Linked DNA regions of Homo sapiens. The protein of the gene in region 1 interacts with the protein of each later gene in a pairwise test. Each region holds a gene or a part of one and is shown on either strand. Other genes may lie near its edges. The genes, in order: ANTXR1 and ASB10.

Region 1 (2,947 bases):
GCCGCCACTCAACAGTCAGATGAACCCAACAGTCAGATGAGAGAAATGAACCCTACTTGCTATCTCTATCTTAGAAAGCAAAAACAAACAGGAGTTTCCAGGGAGAATGGGAAAGCCAGGGGGCATAAAAGGTACAGTCAGGGGAAAATAGATCTAGGCAGAGTGCCTTAGTCAGGGACCACGGGCGCTGAATCTGCAGTGCCAACACCAAACTGACACATCTCCAGGTGTACCTCCAACCCTAGCCTTCTCCCACAGCTGCCTACAACAGAGTCTCCCAGCCTTCTCAGAGAGCTAAAACCAGAAATTTCCAGACTCATGAAAGCAACCCCCCAGCCTCTCCCCAACCCTGCCGCATTGTCTAATTTTTAGAACACTAGGCTTCTTCTTTCATGTAGTTCCTCATAAGCAGGGGCCAGAATATCTCAGCCACCTGCAGTGACATTGCTGGACCCCTGAAAACCATTCCATAGGAGAATGGGTTCCCCAGGCTCACAGTGTAGAGACATTGAGCCCATCACAACTGTTTTGACTGCTGGCAGTCTAAAACAGTCCACCCACCCCATGGCACTGCCGCGTGATTCCCGCGGCCATTCAGAAGTTCAAGCCGAGATGCTGACGTTGCTGAGCAACGAGATGGTGAGCATCAGTGCAAATGCACCATTCAGCACATCAGTCATATGCCCAGTGCAGTTACAAGATGTTGTTTCGGCAAAGCATTTTGATGGAATAGGGAACTGCAAATGTATGATGATTTTGAAAAGGCTCAGCAGGATTTGTTCTTAAACCGACTCAGTGTGTCATCCCCGGTTATTTAGAATTACAGTTAAGAAGGAGAAACTTCTATAAGACTGTATGAACAAGGTGATATCTTCATAGTGGGCTATTACAGGCAGGAAAATGTTTTAACTGGTTTACAAAATCCATCAATACTTGTGTCATTCCCTGTAAAAGGCAGGAGACATGTGATTATGATCAGGAAACTGCACAAAATTATTGTTTTCAGCCCCCGTGTTATTGTCCTTTTGAACTGTTTTTTTTTTTATTAAAGCCAAATTTGTGTTGTATATATTCGTATTCCATGTGTTAGATGGAAGCATTTCCTATCCAGTGTGAATAAAAAGAACAGTTGTAGTAAATTATTATAAAGCCGATGATATTTCATGGCAGGTTATTCTACCAAGCTGTGCTTGTTGGTTTTTCCCATGACTGTATTGCTTTTATAAATGTACAAATAGTTACTGAAATGACGAGACCCTTGTTTGCACAGCATTAATAAGAACCTTGATAAGAACCATATTCTGTTGACAGCCAGCTCACAGTTTCTTGCCTGAAGCTTGGTGCACCCTCCAGTGAGACACAAGATCTCTCTTTTACCAAAGTTGAGAACAGAGCTGGTGGATTAATTAATAGTCTTCGATATCTGGCCATGGGTAACCTCATTGTAACTATCATCAGAATGGGCAGAGATGATCTTGAAGTGTCACATACACTAAAGTCCAAACACTATGTCAGATGGGGGTAAAATCCATTAAAGAACAGGAAAAAATAATTATAAGATGATAAGCAAATGTTTCAGCCCAATGTCAACCCAGTTAAAAAAAAAATTAATGCTGTGTAAAATGGTTGAATTAGTTTGCAAACTATATAAAGACATATGCAGTAAAAAGTCTGTTAATGCACATCCTGTGGGAATGGAGTGTTCTAACCAATTGCCTTTTCTTGTTATCTGAGCTCTCCTATATTATCATACTCAGATAACCAAATTAAAAGAATTAGAATATGATTTTTAATACACTTAACATTAAACTCTTCTAACTTTCTTCTTTCTGTGATAATTCAGAAGATAGTTATGGATCTTCAATGCCTCTGAGTCATTGTTATAAAAAATCAGTTATCACTATACCATGCTATAGGAGACTGGGCAAAACCTGTACAATGACAACCCTGGAAGTTGCTTTTTTTAAAAAAATAATAAATTTCTTAAATCAACTCTTTTTTCTGGTTGTCTGTTTGTTATAAAGTGCAACGTATTCAAGTCCTCAATATCCTGATCATAATACCATGCTATAGGAGACTGGGCAAAACCTGTACAATGACAACCCTGGAAGTTGCTTTTTTAAAAAAAATAATAAATTTCTTAAATCAACTCTTTTTTCTGGTTATTTGTCTGTTTGTTATAAAGTGCGACGTATTCAAGTTCTCAATATCCTGATCATAATACAGTGGTTGCTGTGCTATACATTAAATTACATTTCTCAAATGATTTCATGCCTTCCACTAATTTCTCTACTGTCTGGATTACTGTCATTTCTTCCTTAGCTGTCAGACATTCAAAATATTTTTTATTTCTCATAACAAATTTCAAATTAAAAATGTAATCCATGCTAAGAGAAAATAAGTAAAAAGTGAAAACAGAACACACAGGAAAAATATACTGCATCAGTTAGGATTGTGTTTGGCTAACGTAGCAGAAAGGCAACTAGGATTGATTTTACAAGGAGTCCAGAGATTTGCAGCAACCCAAGAACCAGACAGTGTTGTGGACAGTGCTGCAATAAATACCTTTCTATGTACATCTCAAAATCTTTGTATTGCTTCTGCATTTCTGATACAACTCACTTTATCCCTCCTAGCAGTTTTAATTCAGCTCCTCCATTTATTTTGTAGGTAGAAGAGCATCTCCTTCTAGTTCCTGAATTTCTTTGTAAGATCTCATTGAGCCTTGAATACATCTTAATTGGAATAAAACCATCCACAAACAGAAAGTCATGCCACAAGTCTTTTCTAAGTTTTCATTAGTATTTGCTTTTTAATAGGTATGGGTATGAACACATTTTAAAATTATATCTTTAATAATTGTGTTTTGGGGGTTATTTTGAGACAGGATCTTACTCTGTCACCCAGGCTGGAGTGCAGTGATGCAATCATGGTTTACTGCAGCCTC
Region 2 (7,705 bases), on another chromosome or scaffold:
GCCCCTCCCTGGTGCCCACTGCCCCTCCAGGCCCCATGTCTTCCACATGCCTGCAGTGCTCTGGAAGCGTATGATAGAGGCCCGGGGCATCCAGCCGACCCAGCACCTGGACATCAGTGCCCTAGCCAAGGTCTCCGATGGCTACACGCCGGGTCACATTCTCCAAGCCATCCAATCGGTGCTGAGTGAGCGGCGGTTCCTGCAACTGTCCAAGCGGCCCCTGGTGGCCTCTGAGTTCCTGGGACAACTGGTGAAGCTGGATCCAGTGTACAGGGAGGAGGAGGAGTCCCTGAAGGTGAGGTGGCAGGGCCAGGGGCTGTGGGTAAGCAGCGCCCTTGGGGAGTCAGCCCCCTGAAGCACAACTCGGACCCCTCTCTCTGCTCCCACAAATTACCAGAAGACAATCAGTGGAAATGTGTGTGGAGCTCAGCTGGGAAGGGAGCAGGAAATCACCAGGAAATGCCAAGGCTTCGGGGCCGTCCCACCTGGTTTCCCTGAGGGTGGGAGCTTGCAAGAACCACCGAGGTATCAGGAGCCCTTTGTGGGTTCTGGTAGCAGCTGCCACCCACCTTTCCCACCCCCGAGTCAGTGCCCCTGCCAAGGATGGCCTTGGGAATGCAGGAGAGAGGGCTGCAGGTGTGGAGGGAAGAGGGCTTGCCCACTAAGAACGGCTGACATTGTACCTGAAGCATTTGGTGGGGAGCAAGGGAAACCCCAGCACTAATAGGACCCCCAAACCCAGGAGGAGAGGAGAAGAGGCTGCTGAGGAAACAATCTGTAAAAGGGGGAGGGGTGAGGTCAGGATGGGTCTGAGGGCCTTACCACTCCTGTACCCACCAACCCAGGACTGGTACTTCAAGACCCCACTGGGCAAGAAGAGCATGAAACACAGGATGGACCAGTTGGAGGCCGAGGAGGCCAAGCTGGACAAGGAGAAGAAGAAAAGGAAGTGATGGCTAAGGCTTGCGGGCACCTGAGATTAGTGGCGTGGGACAGGGCAGTGGCCCAAGGGTAAAGGGATGGGGCAGAGGCATAAATGCCCAGATGACTTGGGAACAAACTCTTCTTGTCCATCCATGTCCGTGTCTTCCCACCCTTCCCTCTGTGCCCCCACCTGTGCCTGGCGCTGTCTAGCCCACACCTCTCTCCTGGGCCCTGGCCCTTGCCAGCTCACTGCCACCTCCTTGCTCTGCCTCCTAGATCCCTGTCCTCAGCCCCCACTTCCAGGTCTTCATCTCCTTGTCATTGTCCTATCCTGGCTCCCTGAATCTCTTCCTCCTTGAGGTATTTAAGGGAGAAAAAATAGGAAGAGGAGAGAGGGAAAGAGAAGAGTAGGGAGAAGGAAGGTCTGCAGTCAGATAGAAAAAGCACAGGTCTGGAAGTTAACTGTCCCTGGTTCTAAATGCACTTGGCACTAACTCCCTGTGTGACCTGGAGAGTGCTTTCCTGTCTCTGGGCCTCAGTTTTCTTACTTATAAAGCAGAGAGAGATTGGACCAGGAATTTCTAAGGTCCCTTTTACTCTAGGGTTTGACTATTGTAGCAAAAGTGTCTGGGAAGTCAGGGCAGAGAGGTGCTTGGGGAGTGGCGGGGGCAGGATGGGAAGCAGGGCTCAGCAGAGGTGTGGGGAAGCGGTAGGGCTTTGTGACTAGGGTAAGGGCTGCTAGTAGACCCAATGCTGCAATGGACATGGGAGAGCAGCATTGGATCGACCCAGTTTCTCAGAGTGGCCTTCATCTCTTTCCTCTAAAGACCTGTCCCCTGGCACTCTGCCTGCCCCAGCTGTGCACTGCATCCTCTGACCACAGCCTAACCCTCAGGGCTCAATGGGATAGAGCCTCCTGCCCCTGGGGTGGGAGTCCATCTGTGGGTTTCCCCTTGCTGGGGAGGGAACAGCTCAGGGGAGAACGGGGTCAGAGAACTTAGGGAGCAGGGGCAACCATACCACCAAGGGCTGGTGAGCCCCAGAGTGTTCTCTTGAAAGAGGCAGACCCATGGACCATGTACACAGTGTGTGGATGAAGGCCAAGGTGTGTCCACAGGTAGTAAGAGACAACAGGAGACCTGAAACTATAAAACCCCTAGAAGAAAACATAAGGGAAAGCTCCATGATATTGGTCTGGGCAGAGATTTCTTGGATATGACCTCAAAAGCACAGGCAATGAAAGCAAAAGTAGATGAATGGGATTGTACCAGACTAAAAGGTTTCTGCACAGCAGAGGAAATGACAGAGTGGAGAAACAATCTACAGACTGGGAAAAAAATATTTGCAAATCAAACATCGGATAAGGGGTGAATATCCAAACTACACAAGGAACTCAAACTACTAAATAACAACAACAACAACAAAATACCCCATTAAAAAATGAACAAAGGACTTGAACAGACACTTCTCAAAAGAAGACATACAAATGGCCAACATATATTGGAAAATATGTTCAACATTAGTAATCAGAGAAATGTGAATCAAAAACCATAATGAGATATTATCTCACACCTGTTAGACTGGCTATTATTGAAAAATGAAAGATAAGTGTTGGCAAGGATACGGAGAAAAGGGGACTCTGCATGGTTGGTGGTGTTGTAAATTAGTACCATTTTGAAAAATAGAATGAAGGTTCCTCAAAAAACTAAAACTAGAATTACCTTATGATTCAGCAATCCCACTACTGGGTATATACCCAAAGGAATTGAAATCAGCATGCAGAAGAGGGGTTTGCACCCCCACGTCCACTGCAGCACTACTCACAATCGCCAAGAGATGGAAACAACTGGTGTCCATCAATAGATGAATGGATTTTTAAATGTGGTGTATCTGGAGGACATTGTGCTAAGTGAAATAAGCCAGGTGCAGAAAGACAAATACCGCATGATCTTGCTTATTGTGGAATCTAAAAAAGTCAAACTCATAGAAGTAAAGGGTAGAATGGTGATTCCCAGAGGCTGGGGGCTCGAGGGAGGTGGACAGGGAAAGGGAAAGGGAAGACATTGGTCAGTGGGTATGATGTTACAGGTAAATAGGATAAGTTCAGGTGTTCTATTGCACAGCAAGGCGACTGTAGTGAATAATGATGTACATTTCAAAATGGCTAAAAGAGGATTTTAAATGTTCTCACCACAGATAAATGGTAAATATCATTTGATAGATGTGATAATTACCCTGATATGATTACACATTATATACATGTATCAAAATATTATAGCCCCATAAATATATACAATTATTTGTCAATTAAAAATGAAACTTTTTAAAAAGCAATTGATTTAAAAAAATTTTTTTAAGCCAGCGTGAGCCAAAGGGGCAAGACCAATGGGGCTGGAGCACCTCAAGCCCATGGTGGGCAGTGGTGGGTCAGAGCTGAGCCCGAGGGCCTGGTTTCTCATCTTCTTTCTCTCTTTTTTTCCTTTTGATCCACCCGGCCCCCAAACAAAAGTCAGTGCCTGAGTACACAGAGACATTTCTCCTTTCTCACTCTCTAGTGAAGAGACCCCATGTAACCACAGCAGGGGAGAGATGCCACCCAAGGTCATCCAGGGAGATGGGGGGGTTGGCATCAAGGACGAGCATGGGGAGTTTCTGTGGCTTGCCTGTGGGTTACGCTCTGTTACTCAGGCACACGTCTGTCTAAGGGAGCCCCCTGAGGGGTGCCTCACACAGCGAGGGCAATCTGTGTCACTACTGTGAACTCCTCCCTTGGTTTGGGAGTGGGAAGGTGCAGGGCTAACAGATGACATTTGGAAGGGCAGGAAATATTATCTGGCACCCACAGGCCTTCCCAGTGGGATCAGAGCCCAGGCAGCTGGAGGCCGATTTGGTGAACAAGAAAGAGCTCAAGGCCCTGGGTTCCAGTCCTGGCTCTGCAACAAGCTCTCTGCGTGATCTTGGGAAATTCACTTCCCTTTAATGCCGAGATGACGGACTGGGCAGCATGGTCCGGGTGGTCCCTTTCCACCCTGAGGTCATACAGCCCTGGGGTGAAGCTCAGGGTTGGCGGGCTCAGGCCTCACTTGTTCTCCTGCCCCTCCCTAATTCCCCCACCCGGCCTGACTGACAGCTGGGCCAGTCAGGGCTATTTATGGCTTTGCCTGATGTTGTGCTCCCCTGCGCCTCCCATGCTGGGCCCCACCCAGCTCGGGCCCAGCACCCACCTGCCCAGTCCACCAGCAACATCGCTGGGAGTCGTGCTGCTTTGGCTCTCCCAGAACAAGCCATGCCCTGGGGAAAGAACTCCTCTCCCCACTGGGGACACCATCTGGGGTGCCTTCCCTCCGCCCCGGCCTGCCGGATCTGGAGGCCCCACTCCCGCCCAGCCTGGGAGCCCCCTCGGCCATCACCACTGCTCTGCCAAGACATGGCCCTGCAGAATGCCCTCTACACCGGGGACCTGGCAAGGTTGCAGGAGCTGTTCCCCCCGCACAGCACAGCCGACCTGCTGCTGGAGAGCCGGGCCGCAGAGCCTCGCTGGAGCAGCCACCAGAGGGGTGAGGGGCATCTGGGGGTTGCTGAGAACCAGGGGGCTGGGCTGACTGCCTCGGCCACAGAGGTCCTAAGGGCTTGAGTGAAAGGAGAAGCCCCCGGCTGTTTCTCCCCGACCTCAAAGCTTGCCCAATAGCCTACACCTTGGCCCAAGAACACAGTCATGTGGAGCCCAGAATAGCTCCTGCTGGATGCGTGGCCAGGTCAGCCTCGGAGCGTGGGACACAGGGGCCTTCTGTCTGTCTGTATTTCCCTCCTGCTCTCTCTCTCTCTCTCTGCCTTTGGCATATACCTCTCCTCCTCCCCACTCCCCTTTCCCTGCCCACATGCTCATGAGTTGGTCTCCAGAAGAGTGCAAGGGGCAGGGAGAGCCCCTCGATGACAGACACCCCCTCTGTGCCAGGCTGGTGGAGAAGCCCAGCAGAGGGTCTGAGGAGCACCTCAAGTCTGGCCCGGGACCCATCGTCACCCGCACAGCCTCAGGACCTGCCCTTGCCTTCTGGCAGGCAGTGCTGGCTGGGGACGTGGGCTGTGTCTCCCGCATCCTCGCGGACTCCAGTACTGGCCTGGCTCCTGATTCCGTCTTTGATACCAGCGACCCAGAGCGATGGAGGGATTTCCGCTTCAACATCCGTGCTCTGAGTACGGGCCGGGGCACTGGGGGCTCTCAGTGGGAGAGAGGGGAGGCTGCAGATGGAGCTCTGGGCTCCCTCTTCCTGCCTCTGCCCACCTCACCCCATTGGCTGGAAGGTCTCTGCCTTCCCTGGGGATCTGAGGCCCACGTCTCCCCTCCCTAGGACTCTGGTCTCTGACATACGAAGAGGAGCTGACCACCCCACTGCATGTGGCAGCCAGCCGTGGCCACACGGAAGTCCTGCGGCTGCTGCTGAGGCGGCGAGCAAGGCCAGACAGTGCCCCTGGGGGCCGCACCGCCCTGCACGAGGCCTGTGCTGCAGGCCACACTGCCTGTGTTCATGTGCTGCTGGTGGCAGGAGCCGACCCCAACATCGCTGACCAGGATGGGAAACGCCCCCTGCATCTCTGCCGGGGGCCTGGCACCCTTGAGTGAGTGACCCCTCACCCCAACCCCCAGTTCCACTCTGAAGGGAAGCAAAGAGGCCTTCTCAGGGAGGATGGGGGAAAATGTCAGGGACCTGGGACAGAGCAGTCCAGGCTTGGGGCGCGGGTCAGGGTGCAATTACTTCCCAAGCCATCCACCCGTTGACCCCATGAACTTTGGAGTGGCCTGGACTTTGGACAGTTTTCTGGTCTCCCAGGGGTGGAGGGAGGCTGTGGCAGGGGTGCAGTTGCATGGCCCGCATTGGGAAATTGCCTGGCTCCATTATGGGGAGGTGGTGTTGCTTAAAATTTTTGAAAACACTTTCTGAGCTTATCCTATGTTCCAGGCACTGTGCTAAGCACAACAGCAACTAAGTCCCTGAGGCCCTGCCCTCAGGGAGCTTACTGTCCAGTGATCCAGACAGGGAGTAGAGGATGGTGGCCCCAGTGAGGACCTGCCTGGGTCCCTCTGGGTAGGGTCTGGTTTTCCAAGACAGGTCTAGAATCTCCATATTGGTAGGGCACCCTCAGATCATGGGCTCAAGGGACTCTCACTAACTAAACTCCCAAGAAACTGATGAATACACCCAAATGTGCCAATGTATCATTTATTGTAGGGAATAGTCCTTTGCAGTGACATAAATAATTGCAACCCAAGTGTAAGGAACGTTGTAGGATGGGATCCCAATTACAATTTTGTGAACTAACTCTACATCCTATAGAGGCCCTCTCTCTACTGACTGCACACCTGCAGGTCTTGTCTCTTGCCTCTGAAAGGTGCCAAATTATTGACCCTGGGGTTCTCCTTTCATGGACCCTCTCCTTCTTGTTAATCTCATCAGCCTCTAGAGGATTCCACAGGCTTAATCATACTATGGTTGAAGATGTGTTCTTTACTAGCGTGGCCCAGTGGAAACCTAATGTGAGCCATATATGCAATTTACAGTGTTCTAGCAGCCCTATAAAAAAAATGACAAATGGCCGGGCACGGTGGCTCACACCTGTAATCCCAGCACTTTGGGAGGCTGAGGCAGGTGGCTTGCTTGAGGCCAGGAGTTCGAGACCAGCCTGGCCAACATGCCCAAACCTTGTCTCTACTAAAAATACAAAAATTAGCTGGGTGTGGTGGCAGGCGCCTGTAATCCCAGCGACTCGGGAGGCTGAGGCAGGAGAATTGCTTAAACCTGGGAGGTGGAGGTTGCAGTGAGCGGAGATTAGATTGCGCCACTGCACTCCAGCCTGGGAGACAAAGTGAGACTTTGTCTCACAAAAAAAAAAAAAAAAAGACAAATATGTAAAATTAATTTTCAAAATGGTGGTAAAATATACATGAAATTTGCCTTTGTAACCATTTTTTATTTATTTATTTATTTTTTGAGACGGAGTCTTGCTCTGCCGCCCAGGCTGGAGTGCAGTGGTGCGATCTCGGCTCACTGCAAGCTCCGCCTCCCGGGTTCACGCCATCCTCCTGCCTCAGCCTCGCGAGTAGCTGGGACTACAGGCCCCCGCCACCATGCCTGGCTAATTTTTTGTATTTTTAGTAGAGACGCGGTTTCACAGTGTTAGCCAGGATGGTCTCAATCTCCTGACCTCGTGTTCTGCCCGCCTCGGCCTCCCAAAGTGCTGGGATTCCAGGCACGAGCCACCGTGCCCGGCCTTTTGTAACCATTTTTAAGCGTACAGTTCGATGGCATTAAGCACATTCATGTTGTTGTTCAACCATCGCCACCATCCATCTCCAAACTTTCTCATCTTCCCAAACTGAAATTCTAACCCCATCAAACACTAACCACCCACCCCACCCTGTCTCCCAAGCCCCTGGCAATCACTATGTTACTTTCTGTCTCTGAATGTGAACACTCTGGGGACCTCACATAAGTGGAATCATGTGGTATTTGTCCTTTTGTAACTGGCTTATTCCACTTAGCATGATGTCTTCAGACTTCACCCATGTTGTCCCATGTTTCAGAATTTCCTTCCTTTCTTTTTTTTTTTTTTACTCTGTCGCCCAGGCTGGAGTGCAGTGGCGTGATATCGGCTCACTGCAAGCTCCGCCTCCCGGGTTCACGCCATTCTCCCGCCTCAGCCTCCCGAGTAGCTGGAACTACAGGCGCCCACCACCGCACCCGGCTACTTTTTGTATTTTTTAGTAGAGACGGGGTTTCACCGT

Evidence for each region.
Region 2: the proteins of ANTXR1 (region 1) and ASB10 interact in a two-hybrid assay, tested with the Homo sapiens proteins (one study listed by BioGRID).

The regions. Positions count from the first base shown.
Region 1 is NC_000002.12:69,247,179-69,250,125, forward strand, and holds the end of ANTXR1 (anthrax toxin receptor 1 isoform 1 precursor), read left to right. Parts: 3' UTR 1-2,149; downstream 2,150-2,947. UniProt on the Homo sapiens protein: Plays a role in cell attachment and migration. Interacts with extracellular matrix proteins and with the actin cytoskeleton and thereby plays an important role in normal extracellular matrix (ECM) homeostasis.
Region 2 is NC_000007.14:151,184,228-151,191,932, reverse strand, and holds the start of ASB10 (ankyrin repeat and SOCS box protein 10), read left to right. Parts: upstream 1-4,682; 5' UTR 4,683-4,802; coding exon 4,803-5,118; intron 5,119-5,273; coding exon 5,274-5,541; intron 5,542-7,705. Other genes in the region: DRC11L (IQ and AAA domain-containing protein 1-like), read left to right, coding at 57-295, 846-953. UniProt on the Homo sapiens protein: May be a substrate-recognition component of a SCF-like ECS (Elongin-Cullin-SOCS-box protein) E3 ubiquitin-protein ligase complex which mediates the ubiquitination and subsequent proteasomal degradation of target proteins.